Linked DNA regions of Homo sapiens. The protein of the gene in region 1 purifies or fractionates together with the protein of each later gene. This does not show direct contact. Each region holds a gene or a part of one and is shown on either strand. Other genes may lie near its edges.

The links. Proteins that work in one complex are often made in the same cells at the same time.
Region 2: the proteins of ISG20 (region 1) and PTPRG purify together in Homo sapiens (affinity purification with mass spectrometry; 2 studies listed by BioGRID and IntAct, with this or other methods). This does not show direct contact.
Region 3: the proteins of ISG20 (region 1) and EEPD1 purify together in Homo sapiens (affinity purification with mass spectrometry; 2 studies listed by BioGRID and IntAct, with this or other methods). This does not show direct contact.

The regions. Positions count from the first base shown.
Region 1 is NC_000015.10:88,641,356-88,649,810, forward strand, and holds part of ISG20 (interferon-stimulated gene 20 kDa protein), read left to right. Parts: intron 1-8,455.
Region 2 is NC_000003.12:62,201,571-62,208,570, forward strand, and holds part of PTPRG (receptor-type tyrosine-protein phosphatase gamma isoform 1 precursor), read left to right. Parts: intron 1-1,602; coding exon 1,603-2,380; intron 2,381-7,000.
Region 3 is NC_000007.14:36,296,254-36,302,038, forward strand, and holds the end of EEPD1 (endonuclease/exonuclease/phosphatase family domain-containing protein 1), read left to right. Parts: intron 1-739; coding exon 740-934; intron 935-2,753; coding exon 2,754-2,953; 3' UTR 2,954-5,285; downstream 5,286-5,785.

The DNA.
Region 1 (8,455 bases):
TTAGGGCTGCCATAACAAAGCACCACACACTGGTGGCTTAAACAACAGGAATGTCCTGTCTCGGGGTTCTGGAGGCTGCAGTCTGAGATCCAGGTGTCGCCCAGGTTGGTTCCTTTTGAGGGTTGTGAGTGGGAATCTGTTCCCTGCCCCTCTCCCAGATTCTAGGGGTTGTTGTCAAAGCTTTGGGGTACCTTGGCTTATAGATGCCTCACTCAGATCTCTGCCTTCATGTTCACATGGCATTCTCTCTGTGTGTGTCCAAACTTCCTCTTTTTATTTTTATTTTTTATTTTTGAGATGGAGTCTTGCTCTGTCGCCCAGGCTGGAGTGCAGTGGCAGGATCTGGGCTCACTGCAACCTCTGCCTCCCAGGCTCAAGTGATTCTCCTGCCTCAGCCTTCTGAGTAGTTGGGACTACAGGCACGAGCCACCACACCCAGCTAATTTTTGTATTTTTAGTAGAGATGGGGTTTTACCATGTTGGCCAGGCTAGACTCAAGCGATCCGCCTGCCTTGGCCTCCCAAAGTGCTGGGATGACAGGCATGAGCCACTGCACCTGGTTAGCTTCCTCTTTTTTTTTTTTTTTTTTTTTTTTTTTGAGACAGAGTCACTCTGTTGTCTAGGCTGGACTGCAGTGGCACGATCTCGGCTCACTGCAATCTCCACCTCTTGGGTTCAAGCGATTTTCCCGCCTCAGCCTCCCAAGTTGTAGTATAGGTGTCCGCCACCACGCCTGGCTAATTTTTTATTTTTAGTAGAGACGGGGTTTCGCCCTGTTGCCCAGGCTGGTCTTGAATGCCTGACCTCAGGTGATCTGCCCTCCTTGGCCTCCCAAATTGCTGGGATTACAGGTGTGAATCACTGTGCCCAGCCAACTTCCTCTTTTTCAAAGGACACCAATCATATTGGATTATGAGCCCACCCTACTACTCCAGTGTGACTTCATCCTACCTTAACTAATTCTATCTGCAACGACCTTATTTCCAAATAAATCACGTTCTGAGGTATTGGGGGTTAGGATTTTAACATATGAATTTGAGAGAGCGGGACACAGTTCAACCCATAAACTGAGTAACTTACGCTGTTAAGATAGATGGAATATGGGACAACTGCTCAGGAATCCAAACTCAGGCTTACAGTCTCTAGAACTATGCTGTCCAGTGGGGTCCCCAGCAGCCATATGCTGCTAGTAGACTGAATTCAGACCTGGAGTGTAGCTGGTTTGAACTGAGATGTGCTGAAAGTGTAAAGTCCACACTGGATTTTTTGTTGTTGTTTTGAGACGAAGTCTCGCTCTATCGCCCAGGCTGGAGTGTGGCGGCGCGATCTCGGCTCACTACAACCTCCATCTCCCAGGTTCAAGGGAGTCTCCCGCCTTGACCTCCCAAGTAGCCTCCCAAGTAGCTGTGCACCACCACGCCTGGCTAATTTTTGTATTTTCAGTAGAGACGGGGTTTCACCATGTTGCCAGGCTGGTCTCGAATGCCTCACCTCAAGTGATCCACCCACCTCAGCCTCCCAGAGTGCTGGGATTACAGCCATGAGCCACTGCATCTGGCTGAAGCCTTGTATTTAAAAAAGAGACAGGCCAGATGCAGTTGTTCATGGCTGTAATCCCAACACTTTGGGAGGCCAGTGCAGAAGGATGGCTTGAGCCCAGGAGTTTGAGACCAGCCTGGGCAAGATGGTGAGATCTCCTCTACAAAAAAAATAAATAAATAAAATAAAAATTAGCCAGACATGGTGGTGCATACCTGTAGTCCCAGCTACTCGAGGAGGCTGAGGTGAAGTATTGCTTGAGCCCAGGAGTTTGAGGCTGTACTGAGCTATGATCATGCCACTGCACTGCAGCCTGGGTAAGAGAGACCCTGTCTCTATTAAAAAATAATAATAATTAAAATATTAAAAAGAGCCATAAAATGTCTCAATAACTTTTATATTGATTACCTGTTGAAATGATAGTATTTTGGATATGTTAGGTTAAATAAAACGTTAAAATTAATTTCACCTATTTACTTTTTACGTTTTGAAACATGGCTGTTGGGTGATATAAAATTACATTTGTGGGCCAGGTGCAGTGGTTCACACCTGTAATCTCAGCACTTTGGGAGGCTGAGGCAGGTGGATCACTTGGGGTCAGGAGTTCAAGACCAGCCTGGCCAACATGGTGAAAACCCATCTCTACTGAAAATGCAAAAATTAGCCGGGTGTGGTGGTGGGTGCCTGTAATCCAAGCTACTCAGGAGGCTGACGCAGGAGAATCGCTTAAACCCAGGAGGCGGAAGTTGCAGTGAGCCAAGATCGTGCCACTGCCACTCCAGCCTGGGCGACAGAGCAAGACCCCATCTCAAAAAAAGAAAAAATTACATCTGTGGCTTGCATTATATTTCTATTGGACAACACTGTTCTAGAAGTACAGATTGAGTAGCCCTTATCTGAAATGCTGGGGACCAGAAGGGTTTTGGATTTTGGATTTGGGATTTTTTTGGATTTTGGAATATTTGCATTATACTTACTGGTTGAGCATCCCAAATTTGAAAATCTGAAATTTGAAATGTTCCAATGAGCATTTCCTTTGAGCGTCATGTTGGCACTCAGAAAGTTTAGGATTCTGGAGCATTTGTATTTGGGATGCTGTACCTGTATCAACAGTACAGTGTGGGAACCCTGGAGATGGTCACAGTACATCATCTTGGTTCTGGAAAGACTCCGTGAAGCTGGTGGTATTTGAAAGGGGTGGAGGAGAGTCTATGTAGGGAATTAAGTGGGCCATAGGGAGCCATTGAAGATTCTTGAGCAATGCATGGGAGGATAAAAACCAGTTTCAAGAAAACTAGAATGGGAATACCATGCAGGATAGATGGGAGCGAGAAAAGAGATGACGGTAAGAGTCAGAGGCTGGGCATGGTGGCTCACACCTGTAATCCCAGCACTTTGGGAGGCCGAGGTGGGCAGATCACCAGAGGTCGGGAGTTTGAGATCAGCCTGGCTAACATGGTGAAACCCCGTCTCTACTAAATATACAAAATTAGCTGGGCATGGTGGCATGTGCCTGTAATGTAGCTACTTGGGAGGCTGAGGCAGGAGAATTGCTTGAACCCGGGAGGCGGAGGTTGCTGTGAGCTGGGATCGTGCCACTGCACTCCAGCCTGGGCGACAAAGTGAGACTTAGTCTCCAAAAAAAAAAAAAAAGAAAAGACAAAAAAAAAAAGAGTCAGAGGCCCTAGGGAGCAGTTACAAGGGCCTGCATCATCTTTGGCAGACAGAGAATTGGAGTGAAGAAAACGTTAGGAAAGGAAGAAAACGTTTGGAGAGTCACCAGAAAGGTGAGGGCAACATGAAGAAGAGGTGGGAGTCTGTTCAGGTGCTGATGGGAGGCCCAGGGACACCACAAGGAGCTCCCCGCCCTCAGATTCCCACTGAGCAGTCAGGGTGGGCAGTATGTCCCTCTCCTTCCTCCTTGTCCCCAATTTCCCTCCCCATCAGACAGACAGAAAGGGGCAGAGGAGCCCAGAGCAGGGAGAAAGGAGGCAGTAGAGCAGTACCTCTCCGAGTCCCTGTACATCCAGACCTGGAAAACCGCAATTCCCTGGGCGCCCTTGAGCATTGGCCTCGGGGCCTGGACGCCTCAGTCTTCATCCACATTTGGTGCAGAAATGCTTTTGTTTCTCAGTTAGAGGATATGCCAACTCCACTCTTTAAGCGTGTGACACGGAACCCTGCTCAGACTGGGCACTTGATAGCCACTGAACGATGAGGCAGGGGTTCAAAGACCAGGCAGGTCTTTGGAACCACATCCGGGCTTCTCAGTTCCTGCTCCATCACCTATAGGTTTGTACAATTGTCAGCAAGTTATTGAACCTTTCTGAGGCTCCATTTCCTAATCATAAAAGAGAACTCCTAGTGCCTCCTCCCTGGTCTCATGCGGGTCAGATGCCGTGACATGGACTGTGGCCCTAAGCGCGGTGCCTGGTTCACAGCTGATGTTTGCTAATTGCACCCATGAAGAGAGAAGGGCAGAAACCCAGTCCCCTCTCCGACTTCTCTTGGGAACTGCGGTCTTCGATGCTGACCCTCGTTTTCTGCCGGCTGTATCTTGTGTGCATGCTGCTCTCTCCCACTCTGCTGCCAGAGAACTTCCCTAAACCTGGCTCAGATCATCGCCGCCTCCCCTATTAAAATATCTCCCATGGCTCCCTATTGCCTAAGGTTCCCCCAGCTCAGCACCTAGCAGTCAGGCTCTCCAAACCCCTATCTATCTGCCTTTCTTGCTTTCTCTCATAGCTCAGCCATTGCCTACCATGCATTTCAGCCAACTCCTAGTCTCTCCTATCCCCCATCCCTCTCCCTAGAAATACCATCATTCTGGCAGCCCCAGGCCAGAAGAGACCTTTATGATGCACTTACCCACTCCTGCCCACCATCGCTGCCCCACTGGTCCCTAGCCTCTGGCCCTCCTTGCTGTTGCTGATGCACATCATAGCTCGTCCATTCATTCACACCATCTGTCTATTTCCACAGCTCTTACTATACACTTTATCTGCCCCCAGACTGGAACCTGTGTTTTGCACACAGGTGACTTGAGAATGTTTGTGGGATTGAAGTTGAACTGATTTTCATAAATACAAAAGAGTTCTGGCAGCTGCGTGGAGTAAAATTGTCTCTGCCCTGTGTTGGCCTTTGCTGTTGAGATGTGGTGATGCATAGCCCTGATGGGCAGGGAGCAAGCACACTGTCTTTAGATTGGGCTGCATGTGGATCCAATCCCAACTTTGCCTCTGGATTGCTCTGTGTCCTCTAGCTTGTTGCTCAACCTCTCTGTGCTCCCCTAAGTAGGATCCTCTGTAACACAGAGATGATTAAATAGTACAGGTGTATCCAGCCCTGTGGCCCAGGTGCTATTCTGAGCACGTTTCATACTCCCCACCACAACCCTGAACTAGTACCATCACTCCCATTTTACAGATGAGGAAACTGAGGTATGAGACTGAGTAAGCTGTCCAAGGAAGGGATAGAGCAGAGACTCAGATTCTGGCTCCTGAGCTGGAGCTGTGGTGTTCAGATCCCATGCTCAGTGTGTGTGAATGCACTCTATAAATGCTAAGTGTCCAATGTATGTAAGGGGCGAGGTCCTGCATAGCACATGGGTGGAAATGTGGCCCAGTAATGGTCATTATTTGTCTCTGTGGATGAGGACACTGAGTGTCAATTTGTTGGAGGCTCCGGAGGCAGTTTGATCCCATTTATCATCCATAATGTTTTAATCCCAAAGACAGATCAGGCTCACGGGCCCCCAAATGTGCTGAGGGCCCCCAAAGGGCAGAAGCCTAACAGCCCTTTTATGAGATCCCACAAGGCCAGGTGACACCTCTCAGGTGAGTCTAGGGTTGGCCAGCCTTTGGTTTCATGCAGGCATTATTTTCTTTCTTTTTTGAGACAGAGTCTTGCTCTGTCACCCAGGCTGGAGTGCAGTGGCGCAGTCTTGGCTCACTGCAACCTCCGCCTCCCAGGCTTAAGCAGTTCTCGTGTCTCAGCCTCCTGAGTAGCTGGGATTACAGGCATGTGCCACCATGCCCAGCTCATTTTTGTATTTTTAGTAGAGATGGGGTTTCATCATGTTGGCCGTGCTGGTCTTGAACTCCTGGCCTCAAGCAATCCTCCTGCCTTGGCCTCCCATAGTGTTGGGATTATAGGCATGAGCCACTGCGCCTGGCTATGCAGGCATTTTTCAAAGGCCCCTCACCTCTCCGTCTCCTCCCAGTAAGGAGTAGTGAGTGTGCCCAGCCAGCAGCCAGCAATCAAGTAGCCCATGGTGGCCAGGAGGCTCCGGGGAGTCCCAAGTCCACCCAGGAGTGCTTTAGGCCACTGATGTGAGTGGGACCCCCCCCCCACTCCACCCCTTTTTATTTATTGTAATGTGGCGACATTACTTTTATAATGTAAGTGCTTATGATCTTCTGACATCTCTGTGTCTGACCATTATATAGAGGGGATATTTAGCAATGTTGGGAGACATTTCTGGTTGTCACAGTGGCCGGTATCTAGTGGGTAGAGACCAGAGAGCTCCCAAACATCTCACAATGCCCAGGGCAGCTCCCTCCCCTGCCACGCACACATAACAAAGAAGTATCTGGCCCCACATGGCAACAGTGCTAAGGCTAAGAAACCCTGGTCTATAAGAGAGCGCCACAAATCAGACTGTCAGCACAGGAGGGAATCCATGCACTGGAGACTGGCGTCCAGAGAGGGGCAGTGATTTGCCTAAGGACATACAGGAAGCTATGATACAAATCACTGCTCAGATTCATGGGTCCCACCTGGCGAGTTAATGTTTTTCTTCTTCCTTTTTAAAAAATCTAACAGTAATTTTTAGTAACTTGTAAATCAGTTTTGTGAGTGAATTCTCTTTTAACGTCAACCCAGCATAAGGAGGGGCATCCACCCTGAGAAGCACCGTGGTCGCGGGCACAGATGCAGACAGAAGGGAAGTCATGGTAGCTTGTGAACAGGGAGAGGTTTCAGCTGTAGCCAGCCTGGTAGCCCTTGCACAGGTGGGAGTGTCCTGTTGGGGCCCTGCCACCTGGCAGGTCCCTCTGGGTCTCAGCCAGATGAAGGAGGAAGGCTTCAATATCCAGATTTGCCCCAGGGTAAGTGGCCTTGTGGGAACCAGGCACTAGCCGGGGGGCGGGGACACCAGGGGAGCTTGGCAGGGGACAAGAGCAAAGAATGGGGCTGGAGCCACTCCAGAAGGTGATAGTAAGGGACCTGTCCTCTGTAAGAACAAGATTCTTCAGGGCCCCTTACTCATAGCCTCCTCTCCTGGCAGCCAAGAATGAATGAATGGGTACGTGAACTAGTGTATAATGGATGAATGAATGCATGGTAGAGGCAGCAGGCTCTGGACTGCTCAGCGGGATTCAGTGCAGAGATGTGCAGACTTGTTAGATGGGAAGAATCCCCTGAAACAGTTGCTGACACCCCTCCCTGGATATTTCAATTCAGTAGGTCTGTGTAGGGCCTGGCCCTCCTGGATTTTTGGATCAGGCACATCTGGGAAATACTTGGAGTAGAGTGGAAACACAGTGGAAGGTGTGTGCAGGCAGACAGCCGCACCTGGTCTGGCACTCCCCTGCTTGTGACCTGGGTGCACACCGCCCTGCGCCCCGCTTTGCTGGCGGGTCAGATGGTATGGAAGTCACCGCCTTGCACCGTTATCATTGTGTGCCTGGTAGTGCCCTGTCCCTTGGTCCTTGTGCTAATAATAACAACTACAGTAACAATGATGGGGTCAGGTGGATCCAGACACGGCACTGCAGCTTTCAGCTGACTAGCTGTGTGACTTGGGCAAGCCCCTTAATCTCTCTGATCTCGGGCTCCCTCCTCTGTAAAATGGAATTAAGAATAACCTCATTGAGGAGCTTCCTGAGGAGGTAAGGAAAGTGCCTGGCACAGTGCCAGGCTGCTAAGAGATCAATAAATGTCCCATCCCCCAGCCCCACCCCAGTTCTTTCCAGGAATTTGAGAGACTCCTCCCCCTGTGTTTGAAAGTGGCAAAGTCTGGCACACTTGCCTCATGACACTGACTCAGGGCAGGTCCTGTGGCCAGCAGGTCACACAGCCCCGAGGCCAGCCTGCCAGTGCCTTTCTCCGACTCCTGGGCTCCAGCAGGTGCCCGACTCCTTCCCTTTTCAGACCTGCCTCAGTCTGTGGAGCCCTGGCTGCTAAAGGGCCACTCAAGCCTCACCAGTCTGGGCCCTCACCTTACAAATGGGAAAACTGAAGCCCAGAGAGGGTCTTTGACATCCCTGAGGTCACACAGCAAGTTCCAGCATCTCTTCCTTCCCAGAATCTTTGTCCCAAAGAGTGGTGTCTCTTTGCTAAATAGATGGTTCTGTTCTTTCCCTTCTTCCTCTTCTTTCCTCGGCTTGTCCTCTCCCTCTTATTCTATTTGTCTCGTGGTGAGTCACATAGTGCCTCATGTAGACCCCCACTTCCCCTCTCCAGACTCTCAGGCTCGGGAAGTGATGGGTTTCCTGGGAATCCACACCATGATGACTCGTACCTTCTACGTCTGTGCCCAGCTGTGGCTGCCTCTGGGATGGTGGATGAGTTCCTTCAGGGCTTTGTGTGAACTGGGCCTGAGCCAAGCCCCTAGATGGGGAAAACAGGCCACATTGTTCAGGAGCACAAAGGATGTTAGCAAGAAAAGACACATGACCCATGGCCGCCCACACACCCACATCTCTCCACGCCCCGTGCCATTTCTGCCCGCCGCTGCGTGCTGGGTGGTTTCCTCTGCACAGAGTTTCCCTTGAGCTGCTACTCTGAGGTCGTGTGCCTGTTGTCATCTTTTAAAGCCTCAGTTTTGTCGCCATTTCCCAGGTGACCTCTAGCACACTCAAGTTTGAGAAGCGCTGGTGTGGTTCAGGAGCAGCGCCCCTTCATTCTCCAGCAC
Region 2 (7,000 bases), on another chromosome or scaffold:
AAATTGCTTTGTCGTGGCTGGTTGTTAATTTGCTTGCAGTTAAAACTGTCACCACGAAGTGGCAGTATAATGTTGTTAAACTGCTCAGTGTAAAGCGGTTATAGTAGAGAAAAAATTACATTATTCACTTTTTATAATTCAGTACCTTATGAACACAAGCTGTGCAACAGTGTTAGGTGGTTATATTATATAATTTTGTGAAGGTAAAAATTCTTCATATTTTTAGTTATGATTTGTGGGATCAGACGATGCAGGACCACAAAGGAGTTAAATCTGTTCCAACCCTTTCATTTGACATATACTCAAATTCAGAGGTTGTCATTTGCGTAAAGTTATATGGATCTGAAAATTTCTGGAACCAGAATTAATATCTTAGTTTCCCCATTCCTGGTTGGTATAATGAATAATTAAAATACTAATCACAGCAGTGGTGATAATAATAATAGCCTAAAATTCACTATGCTCTTCCTGGGTTTCAGGCACAGATTATTTTATTTACTTCTCCAGGCAGCCCACAAGGTCAGTGTTACTGTTGTTCCCGTTTTACAGATGAGGAAACCGAGGCTCAGTGAGTTAAAGTAATGTGTCCAGCATCACCCAGCAGGCAAGCTAAAATTAGACTAATAGCTCAGAGCAGCACTTCTTGTTTTCCTAAGATACCTTATGTGAGTAAAACCCCCAGACTTGAGCCCCAGTTTAGTATGGTGGTAAGAACAAGCCGAGTCTTAGACCCAGGCAGCCCTGCATTTGTGCCTTCCAGGTCATGTACCTTGTGTAAGCTCTTTAACATCTCTGTGTCTGAGTTTCCTCACCTGCAAAATGGGGTGATGATCATGCCTGCCTCCAGAGTAGCATGGAAAGCCCTGGCACACGGTTGGCATTTGTTAATTGGAATTCTTGTTATTGTTGTTGATGTTGTTGTCATCTGTATGGGCTCAGATTTTCCCACGGATCAACTTAGAAACTGCAAGGTACAGTGACTCTGCAGTGCCCAACATGGAGATGCAGAGATGTAAACCAGTGCCCAGAGCATGCAGTGCAGAGCATGGCTCCTGCCTCTGACCCTGTCATTGCAGACCTGGGCAGGCTGCTTTCCCTCCTTGTCCACCCACTTCCTCACTGGGAGACAGTGGGGTTGGACTGGATCACCCAGTATCTTTCCAGACCTAGAGCTGAGTATCTACTCAAGTGTCAGTGATATACATAAAATCAAAGGTCTTCTGCCTCTCATCACCCCAAGAACAGATGACCATCTGATTTTTCCAGTTCATGACTTCTTTGTTGTGTAAGTCAGCTTTAACACTACTTAGTTTTTTTGGCACCTAGCCTCATCTTGGGTAATATCAGTGAAAAGCTGAGTTTGATCGACTAGTTATGCATTTTAACATGTTCACAATTATAAAACCATTAAAAATAAAAGTTGATCACCCATGGACCACCTAATGTCAACTTTATGCCATACATTGGAAAACTCCATAGCATAGATGAGTAAAATCCTCAGAGGGTGACAACCAGGGCCTCATTCCCAATCTCAATTACTGATGCTTCTCTGCTTTTTCTTCTTCTGCCTCTTTTCCACCCTTGCCGGGTGACCCTTTCCAGCCCACAGCGTCTCCTGCCTCTTCAGCCGACATGGCCCCCATCAGCTCGGGGTCTTCTACCTGGACGTCCTCTGGCATCCCATTCTCATTTGTTTCCATGGCAACTGGGATGGGCCCCTCCTCCAGTGGCAGCCAGGCCACAGTGGCCTCGGTGGTCACCAGCACGCTGCTCGCCGGCCTGGGGTTCGGCGGTGGTGGCATCTCCTCTTTCCCCAGCACTGTGTGGCCCACGCGCCTCCCGACGGCCGCCTCAGCCAGCAAGCAGGCGGCTAGGCCAGTCCTAGCCACCACAGAGGCCTTGGCTTCTCCAGGGCCCGATGGTGATTCGTCACCAACCAAGGACGGCGAGGGCACCGAGGAAGGAGAGAAGGATGAGAAAAGCGAGAGTGAGGATGGGGAGCGGGAGCACGAGGAGGATGGAGAGAAGGACTCCGAAAAGAAGGAGAAGAGTGGGGTGACCCACGCTGCCGAGGAGCGGAATCAGACGGAGCCCAGCCCCACACCCTCGTCTCCTAACAGGACTGCCGAGGGAGGGCATCAGACTATACCTGGGCATGAGCAGGATCACACTGCCGTCCCCACAGACCAGACGGGCGGAAGGAGGGATGCCGGCCCAGGCCTGGACCCCGACATGGTCACCTCCACCCAAGTGCCCCCCACCGCCACAGAGGAGCAGTATGCAGGGAGTGATCCCAAGAGGCCCGAAATGCCATCTAAAAAGCCTATGTCCCGCGGGGACCGATTTTCTGAAGACAGCAGATTTATCACTGTTAATCCAGGTAAGTGGTGCAGGTCTTCTTCGAGGGTTCCTGCTCCTGTGAATAGTCGTACCCTTTTTCAAAAAATTGGGAGCAGAAGGTGAAGCTTCAGAAGGTACTTAATATTCTTAGAATCATATATGTCTGTCATAGAAAAGGTGCACACATGTGAAATGTGTATGTGTGTGTCCCTGTTTTACTCCAAAAGCCTACTCTCTTACGCTGGAGTAAGTCTTTCTTTGATATTTGTTTTCTTGCCTCGGAATAACTCCAGGGACTTCAACCAGGCAATGATATACATGAATAAAAAAAGCCATCGATCTTAAGAAGTTTATTTATTAAGATTTCATTCCATATTCATTATATAATGTATCTACAAATGGCTAGTTTGGTGCCAGGGACTGGGCAGGGTGCTGTCCCAGGGGATCCTAGTCCCTGCCTAAAAAGTTTAAAGGGGAAGGCAGACAGATGACAAGACAGTAGCTAGCTGGAGCGCATGCCCAGAAGTTAGGTAGCAGGAACGTTAGAAAGCCAGCAAGCTAGATGGTGGTTAGTCGGCAAGCTAGATGGTTAACTGGCAAGCTGGAAAACTAACTAACTGAAGTTTTCGATTGTGAAATGGTAATAGAGGAAATAAACAGGATGCTGTCCAAGAGAATTATGGAGAGGATAGGGACCTACCTTAATTAAGAAAGGCCACTCTGGAGAAGTGGCTTGTTCATGGAAACCTACAGAATGAAAGGCTTCAGCCTGGGGAGAGCTGGTATTGGCCCATGGTCCTTGCCCAAGAAATACGGCCCTCTCTCCCAGAGCTCCCATTGCTGTGGGAATGAGCCAGTGTATAGACAGTGAGGCCAGGGCATGAGATCCTCATCTCCTGGTGGCAATTTTGTTGCTCTATCATATGCTCAAATCTTAATGAACCATCCTGATAGTTTCTGCAAGGGAGCCATAAGCATGAGGAGTTGTTATTGTTGTGAGGGCTTTTCTTAATAAGAAATTCTTCATTTTGCCAGACTACAAGATGTTTAGCAACAATTTTTTTTGCGTCTAAGCTGTTGTGGAGTTATAAGAGTGCAAAAAAAAAGCAACTGGTAAATATTTATTTGCTTTTGCACTTGTAAACATTAAAATTCATCTAAAGCTGAGATCTCGTATGTTAAGATACAACTTAGAATAAATTTTCATGTTTTGAATTACTTTCCTCTTAAAGCTGCTATGAACTAATTTTTTGAAGTGGGGGTCTCCTGTGGGTATTGCTCACTTTAGCTGTGACTGGGGGAAAGGTGCAGAGTAGCCTTTTGTGGAACTGAGTGAAGGAAATGTGGGGCCACTTGGGAAGCTGTTTCTGTAAGAACAGTGACATTCCCTCTAGGAATTACTTTGAAAAAGTTGAATTTCTTGCATTTGAAGACGCTGAAGAAACATGTACGGAATGCCCACTGTATAAGAGGCACCAGGCTAGGCTTTGGCAGTAGAACATAGGTAACACAGACTTCTCTTCTCTTGGGGTTTGCATTCTGGTAGGGGAGCTTGAGAATATGCCAGTAAACAAATACATACCCTTAAGTAGCCTTAATTGCTACAGTTGGGGAGCGGAGGGACAGTGTAGCTCTGAGTGGTCAAGGATGACCTCTGAGCAGAGAGCCAAGTGGTAAGAAGGAGCTAGCCATGCAAAGATCCAGGGAGGGGAATTCTGGGCTGCAGGAACAGCAGGTCCAGAGACCCTACAGTGGGGAATTAATTTGGATCAGTTGAGGAGCTATCAGGCCAGTGTGGTTAGACCAGAGGGAGTGAGGGGGAGAGGAGGGGATGGATTTAGAGATTGATGGAGGTGCTCTGGAAAGGTACTCGTTGACCACGCTGAGGATTTCCTTCTACTAGAAATGAGAAACCAGGGTAGATCTTGGCTGCAGTGTTACTTGATTGATTTTTTGAAAGACCTCTCAGGCCTCTGCGTGGAGATGATATAGGAAGGCAGGAATGGATGAAAGAAGCCCAGTTAGGAGGCAGTGGTAATGGTGGCTTGGACCAGTGTGTTTTCTATGAAGACAGGTGGTGGACTTGGAATTGACTTTCAAGCTTGAGTGTTCAGCCTCTGGACTATGGGCTCTGGCAAAGTAGCATTCTCAGCCTGCTCCTCTTAAACATTTGTTTGACCACATTCCTGAAAAATGTGGCTGCTGAGAGCTTAGGCTGGGAGTATTTACAGTTTGAGAGATGGGAGAGAGGCAGGGACTGGGACCGCCCCAGGTAAGTGGAAATGAGTTCTTGCCATTGGAGTCAGGTTCCAGATTCCAGAGACAGGGGAGAAGAAATGGATGGCAAACTTTGGGGGCTCCCTACTCCAGGTATGAGGTGTGTAGGTCCTCGGCTTCCACCCTACAGAAATCTGAGAGCATCTACAATCTTGGCAGAGTGGCTTTGGGAGTCAGATCAACCCAGTTGGCTCTGTCCCTTATTCACTCAGGGTCCTCAGGTAAGTCTTAGTCCCGTGTCCTCGTTTGCAAAGTGGAGCTAATGATCATGCTTAATGCCGAAGGTGGTGTGGCTGTGGAGACCCCCTCACTGTCACTGACAAATAGGAGCTGTCAGCAGCCCAGGTGCCACACAATGATGGTGACTGTGAGGAGGCCCCCCACAGCCCTTTCCTTTGCTATTGTCTGTGGACATTAAAGCTACTGGTCCCCAAGTAACTGCCATTAAAAATGACCTCCAGATGGCCGAGTGCAGTGGCTCACTCCTGTAGTCCCAGGACTTTGGGAGGCCAAGGAGGGTGGATCGCTTAAATCCAGAAGTTCATGACCAGCCTGGGCAACATGGTGAAACCCCGTCTCTAGAAAAAATACAACAATTAGCAGGGCACAGCGGCTCATGCCTGTAGTCCAGCCACTCGGGAGGCTGAGGTGGGAGATCACTTGAGCCTGGAAGGCAGAGGCTGCAGTGAGAAGATCACACCACTGACAGAGCAAGACTCTGTCTCAAAAAAAAAAAAAAAAAAAAAAAAAAAGAAGGACCTCCTCCTGAAACTCAACACTGGTAAATCAGAGCTTTCCCTTATCACCTTCAGCAAAGTGAGAAGGTCCACTTCTGAAAGCTAAAAAAAACTTCCTTGAAAATTTCAAGCAGTTCAAGTCTGAAAATGGTGGTGATGATTGTTTAAGCCAGATATAAGCAAACTTTTTCAGCTAAGGGCCAGAGAGTAAATGTTTTTCAGTTTTGCAGGCCACAGGTCTCTGCTGCAGCTACTTAATTCTGCCTTGTAGCACAAAAGCCACCATAGACAATACACAGCTGAGAGGATGTGATAGTATTTCAATTAAAACTTTGTTTGCAGAAACAGGCGATGGGTCTGATATGGTCCACAATCTGTCATTTGCCAACCCCTGGTTTACACAGAAATCTGCATGTGCCTGTTGATTAGTAAAGGACGTGAGTGACCTGAAGGTAAAACAAGCAAATCCCACATCAGTCAATGATCCTTCAGGTCTTGCTTCACTTCCATTCACCCTGTCCTTTGCCCTGTCTGCCTCCTCCAGTATGGTATTTATTTTTTAATGAAATCGCCATCATTTTAATGTTAGTGATTTATTTTAAGGACTTTGTGTGTACATTTGCTTTAAATCTGTTACACATTTATTTTTTCTTCATATTAAGGAAAAACAATTACTTTAATCAATACCTGGTCTCTGAAAAGAGTGATAATGTGTAAAGTTACACACTGTTATATTTTTATGAGTATCTCCAAACAGCTTGTTTAAATCCCTTTGGTGTTTCATAACATATTTTTAAGTCCTGTGAGTAGTGGCTTTAATATATTATCTCCCAGGGAAGAAGAAGAAGGGAATCCTTCTATAGAAGAAGTGGCAAACCCAGACACCTACAGAAACCAGTTAATACTAATGAGAAACAAGGACCAGGTGTTAGACATTAGGGAGTGGTAAGGACTGCAGCAAATTAAAGAGCACATGACTTTTCTAAAGAGGGCCATCTCACTCAGCTCCAACAGATTACTGCCAGTGAGAATGCCTAGTGAGCCAGAAATCCAGGTTTTTGTGCAGAACCCCCCAACTTTTAAGTAAGCTCAAATTTTTAAAACAATTTCTGCTTTTTAAAAATGTAGGCCAAACTAAACCCATCCCTGGGCCAGGTAGGAACCGCGGGTGGTCAACCTCTACTGTAGTGTTGATTGCTAGAGTTGCAACTTCCTGAGAAGCCTTTCAGAAGGCTTGAAGGCCTAGGTGTACTCCCTCCCTTTCACCAGGCTTTTTTCTAGCGTTTCTTTAGTGCAAAGCCCTCAGCTGGATGTCTGCTACATGGAAATCCAGCATGTGGTCCCATCCTGAGGAGCCACAGCGTGAGCCCAGAAGCCAACTGATGCAATGAAATGTTCTTGGGGGTACTATGCAGTACAGCATACCCTACAAAAACATTTCAGAGTGGGCATCATCTACAAATTCATCATTTGGTGCTGGGATTTTCCATTTTTGTTTCCTTAAATTAGGGAAACTCTTTTTTCAGGTTGAATCTTGCTCAGAAACTCAGTATGTGAACACTCATTGCTGAAGGTTTACTGACTGCATCTTCTGGCTCAGCCCTGAGTCAGGTGCTAAGGGGACATTCCACTTCAGGGGTCGGCAT
Region 3 (5,785 bases), on another chromosome or scaffold:
TACAGTTCCCAATCGAGGAGTGGCTGCTGCTTATATCTCCAACCTCATCTTTAACATCTGGCTTCTTGATACCTTGTCCTAGAGAAGTAGCCAACTGAACCTCAGGTACCCACCCCACCCCTGGGAAGCCAGGCTGTTTCTTAGCTCCCTGGCCTTGCATAGGTTCCCTCTCATCCATGTTGACCCAAGCACTTCTGTGCATCCTCTGAGACCCAAGTCAGGCATTGTCTCCTCCGGGAAGCCTTCCCTGACCACCTTTCCCTGTGCTGTGTTGGTTTCAGTATGTGTGTTTGTTTTTGCACCTACTCTGTGCTCTTGTCTGTTTTCTAGTCTGTCTCTCAGAGCAGGAGTTGCATTTTATTCATCTCTGGATTTCCTGCATAGTAAGTGCCCAGTAGTATGTTGAGTTTTTGTTAAATATTTGGGTAAGACCCTTAGGTCTTTTTTTTTTTTTTTTTTTTTTTGTGATAAGATTTGGAACCCATAGGCTTCAACAAGGGTGATTTTTGTGTCACGCTGCCCCTGATTTCCAAACGTGTTGCTGACTTACTCTTAATATTGGTGGCAGGGTGATATGCACATGAAATGTGGAAGAGTGAGGAGAGTGAGAACCATGCCACAGTACTAACCCCATGGGAGTCAAGTCAGAGAATCTCAATCCCGTTTCAAAGGGCCACGGTCAGTGTTGGGTTTTACTTCCCAACAACTCTTAAACTCATTTTCTTCCTTCCACTTCCAGGAGAAAAGGATGTCATTATCTTAGGGGATTTTGGCCAAGGGCCAGACAGCAATGACTATGATATCCTGAGGAAAGAAAAGTTCCACCACCTGATCCCCGCGCACACCTTCACCAACATCAGCACCAAGAACCCTCAAGGCTCGAAGTCTCTGGACAACATCTGGATCAGTAAAAGCTTAAAGAAGGTTTTCACAGGTGAGGCAGAACTCACTTGTCCTTTCTCCTGTTCAGGAATGGAGTGAGAGAAACATGTCTGAACTGACAGAAGTCATCTCACCTCCTCTGAGGCATACATAGGATTGTGGTTTACGTGACTGTATAACTGTCATTTAATCAGAGACAGAATCCAGGAATCCAGGCCCCTGTCAGTCCCGCGCTAAGGACCACACAGTGCTTTCCAGCCATTCTCTAATTGTTTTTGTAACTATTCGTTAATTTTATTCAAATATACCTCCTGCTGCTTAGATTTCTAAATCCTCATTTTTCAAAGTGAAAGGGAGTGTGACAAATAATTTTAGAACACCCACTGACCTACAGCAAGCAGATGTGTTCCAGGCAAACCTGGTTATAGATTGGCAGAGTCCTGATTCAGAGATGAGCTGATAACGTTACTTTTAGGACACTTAGTCTTCTAGCAAACATTTGTCAAACATGCAAGTGTTGTGTTGTAGGATGCAGTGTGTAGACATGCTATGAGGTGGACATGCTGTGAGGTGAACAGGTGTCTCATATAGTGTCACAATGGGACAGGAGAAATGCTCAGTGCTCTGCAAGGAGCAGGGTATGGGGGTGATTTCACCCTCTCTGCAGACTGGTAACCTGCTGAGTCAGGACACAGTCAACAATATGGAAGAGACAGTAGGGTCTTTTGATGAAAGACAAGAACAGTATTTCTAAACTCTGACTGGACATTTTGCGAAGCCCCACGGATGCCTATTATACTTCAATGAGAAATTTAAAAATAAAAGTTGCAGGGCCTGGCTTTTATTGCGAGAGAGACTAATGGGCAGCCAAGGCCAAGATCTTCAAGACTAGGACATCTAGGCTTGACTGTCACCTGCTTCTCCCCTCTCTCTTGGGGCACTAGTTTCCTGTTGTACTCTGTCATGGGAGGACCCAAATGATGAAGAAAGTGGGTCTCAGGGAGAATGACAATTGTCAAACTAGCCTCGGTTTGCAGAAATGCGCTATGGGCCAGGAAAAGAGGCCAGCCCACGGCCTTTGCAGGCCCCCAGGAAGGTGTCTATTGAAGGAAGAGAGCTGGGGAAGCTGAGCCAACAGGGCTGGAAGGAAGTTGGAAATCCTTTCAGTGGTTCCCTTCCTGTGAAGTTGCTGAGCTCAGGGAGGAGTTGCCCCCGCTACAGAATGGTCAGCAGTGTGTGCCAAAGCTCCACCCAGAATCTAGGCCCATGTCAATCCTGCACTAAGGACCACACAGTGCTTTCTAGCTATTCTGTAGTTGTTTTTGTAACTATTCATTATTTAATTATATTCAAATATACTTCCTGCTTCATAGATTTCTAAATCCTCGTTTTAAAAATACCATTACTTTCTCATAAGCTTCTGTAATTTTTTCTTTTTTACCCTTTGTGTAGAAAGAATTTCCACCCCTAACCCCCTTAGTGTCTTTTGCTTTGCAAAACTGGACCTTTGCTTTGGACTTGGGATGTCTTTATGAGGCGTCTGTCTCTGTTTTGTGATCAGATTCACAGCAGCGCGTTTATGAGGACAGGTCAGCCCATGTGCCCATGTGTGTCTGGATGGACAGGAGGCCTGGCCTCTGGGTGTTTTCACTGCCTAAATGCAGAAACTCTCCTTTATGTGGAAAATCAAACTGGCCGAGACCTTTAATATGCACAGGCAAATGCACAGGCACCTTCCAGCTACCTGAGGCAGCCTCTCCGGGCACCCCGGCCTGCAGACATGCGGTGTGACCCTCCACCTGCCAATCCAGGACCTCCCGCACCCAACCCCCCATCCTGATTCCCGGTCTCTTTCCTTCCTCTCCCTTCAGGTCACTGGGCTGTGGTGAGAGAAGGCCTCACGAACCCTTGGATTCCGGATAACTGGTCTTGGGGCGGGGTGGCTTCTGAACACTGCCCAGTGCTAGCCGAGTTCTACACTGAAAAGGACTGGAGCAAGAAGGATGCCCCTCGGAACGGCAGCGGGGTGGCCTTGGAGCGAAGTGAAGCCAACATCAAGCACGAGCGATGATGACACCAAATCCATGTGTCCACCCTGGGACCCAGGAGGGCACAGCCAAGGAATGAGCCCTGTGGGGTGACGCTTCAGGGCAGAGCTGCCTTTTAATTTTTATTCTCAGAGCATCAGCACTTGAGGCCTTGCCCCACGCCTTCTCTGTGGACCATTCAGGACCTCCAGTGGGGGTGGCGTGCCAGGCGCGTACCCCACCAGGTGGGCAAAGCAGAAACCTGCGGGGAGCGGAGACGCCTTTTATCTCTGGATGCCACAGACCTGAGCAGCATTGGGCTGGCTGTCCGCTGCTGACTGGATGGCAGCACAAAGACAATATGAGCAGAGGGAGGAGAAGAAGGGGTGCTCAGGCTGCGGGCCACAGTCCAGCAGCGCCAGAAGCACTCATTTCTGACCACCAGGCTATGACGTTCCTGCTGCGCATTACAGAAAGCTTTTAACTGTGATCAGGCACTCTGCTCAGATACATTGAGTGGCGATTTTTAGTTTTGTTTTGAAAAAATAAACAGATTAACCTGCCTCGCTGCAGTGAGAGCATGGGACAAGTCCGCCACAGCCCTCCCCCGCCCCCTTCCCCCGCCCCCCAACGCGCAGTGTGTATTTGCACCACGGCAGGTGCCTCTGTGTGGAGCTAGGGTCAAGCCCTGAGCAGCTTCACTTCCCCTGCGCCTTTTATGTCCCCACCTTGAGGCCTTGCAGAGGCGCCTCTCAAGGCCCCATCAGCTCGCCGGGACCTCTGTGAAGCCTCTCTGTCATCTCCCCTTCCCAGCCCCTCCTTCATCCCCTGCCTCCTTCACCAGCCTGGCTTTTGCCTGGAGCACTATTTGTTTAGTTCTCTTTGCAGGACAAGAATTCTCTCAGGGTGGTATCACCTCCTCCCTCCTCCCCACTCACTCCAGTTTTTAGCCCGGAGCCTCCTGTGGTTGACTATCAGGAATGTGTGCTGTGTCAGGATACATAGGAAGTTGACCTCGGGGTATCATGGAGAGTGTCCCTCCTAGTGGCTGGAGGTAGGGACAGTTGGTTGTGGGGCTGGAGAGAGGTTGTGGGGAGGAAGCGAGGATGCGTGCCTGCCACTAGGCATCTGCATCCCCGAGCCCAAGCCAGGAGGGATTTCCCTTAGGCAACACCATCCCAGGGAGATCTGCCACAATTTGCGTTTCACAGCTGAAGACGCTGAGGCTTAGAGAGCTCGACCTCCTCAAGGTCACACCACTGGGTAAATAGAGGGATGCAGACTCAGGTTTTGCTATGTGCTCACATTTCAACTTTATGCTTAACATGAATGGAAAAATATGAAAGTAAATAGTGAAAAGGTAAGTTATGAGCTTAGATTACCTAGATTATTCCAGTATCCCATGGAAGCTGAGGACTTATTCCGCTTTCCACACCGAACACTAAATGTGGACCAGTATCAAGAACCCTCCTGTCCCCACGCAGTGTAAACCCAGTGGCTTCTCTGACCTGGAGCTGATGGGCCGTGAAGGGGGCCTATTTTTCTCCAAAGGCCATCCTTTTGGGGCCACCTGGCTCCAAGAAGCATCGCTGGTCTTGGGGACGGGAAGGGAACCCTCTTCCAGGAGCTCTAAGGGTACTTGGGAATCAATTGTGTCCATTCTGAGGTCTCTCCAGTGGGAGGGCGGCAGCTCCTGTCCCTGGGTTCAGGCTGTGCTTCTGGAAGCATCGAAATGGGATGTCTGAGCCTTGAGGAAAAGCAGCAGGGTTAGCATTAAAGTCAAGAGGGGCAGCTCAGGATGCTACCAGGGAGCACATCGTTTCTGGTGCCTCATCTAAAGGTGAAACCTCCCCTACATTCACCAGCCGGATGTCCCAAATCCCTTTAGCCAGATTGCTTTTTGCAACCAAAGCTGTGGACAGAAAAGCCTCCTTAAGTGAGCTGAGGGGACAGGAAATCCAATCAGATGACCTTTGTGTTCGTAATCGGGCTTGAGCCAGAGGCTGGGGAGCTGAGTCCCAGCCAAACCTCACTGGCCCTTTTGCTTTTCACGCCCAGGGCTCAGTGGCCCAGGAAGTGTGCTGGGCAGCCTGTTCTTACTCCAGCTCAACCCATTGGGTGTTGGCTGTTTTTGGTTTTAGTTGTTGTTTTGTATTTTGTTGTTTTAATTAATAGGCTTTATTTGTAAGAGCAGTTTTATGTTTACAGAAAAATTAGGCACAAAGGGATTCCCATATCCCTCCTCTTCTTTGCATATTTCCCCCTCTAATTAGCATGTTGCATTAGCATGGCACTTTGTTACAACTGATGAACTTGTATTCATTATTAGCTACAGTGTTCATAGTTTATATTAAAGTTCACTCTTTGTGTTGTGCATCCTATGGGTTTTGACAAATGTAGAATGACATGTATCACCATGCTACAGAATCATTCAGAATAGTTCCTCTGATGTAAAAATGCCCTTGTGGTGGGGCATGGTGGCTCGAGCCCGTAATCCCAGCACTTTGGGAGGTGGAGGCGGGCAGATCATTTGAGGTCAGGAGTTCGAGACCAGCTTGACCAACATGGTGAAACCCCATCTCTACTAAAAGTACAAAATTTAGCCAGATGTGGTGGCGCATGCCTGTATTCGCAGCTACTTGGGAGGCTGAAGCACGAGAATTGCTTGAACCTGGGAGGTAGAGGTTGCAGTGAGCTGAGATCATGCCATTGTACTCCAGCCTGGGCAACAAGAGCGAAACTCTGTCTAAAAAAAAATACCCTTGTTCTCCATCTATTCACCCATGCCTCCCTCCCCCTAACCCGTGACAGTCACTGCTCTTTTCACCATCTCCATAGTTTTGTCTTTTCCAGGGTGTCGTTTGGTTGGAATTATA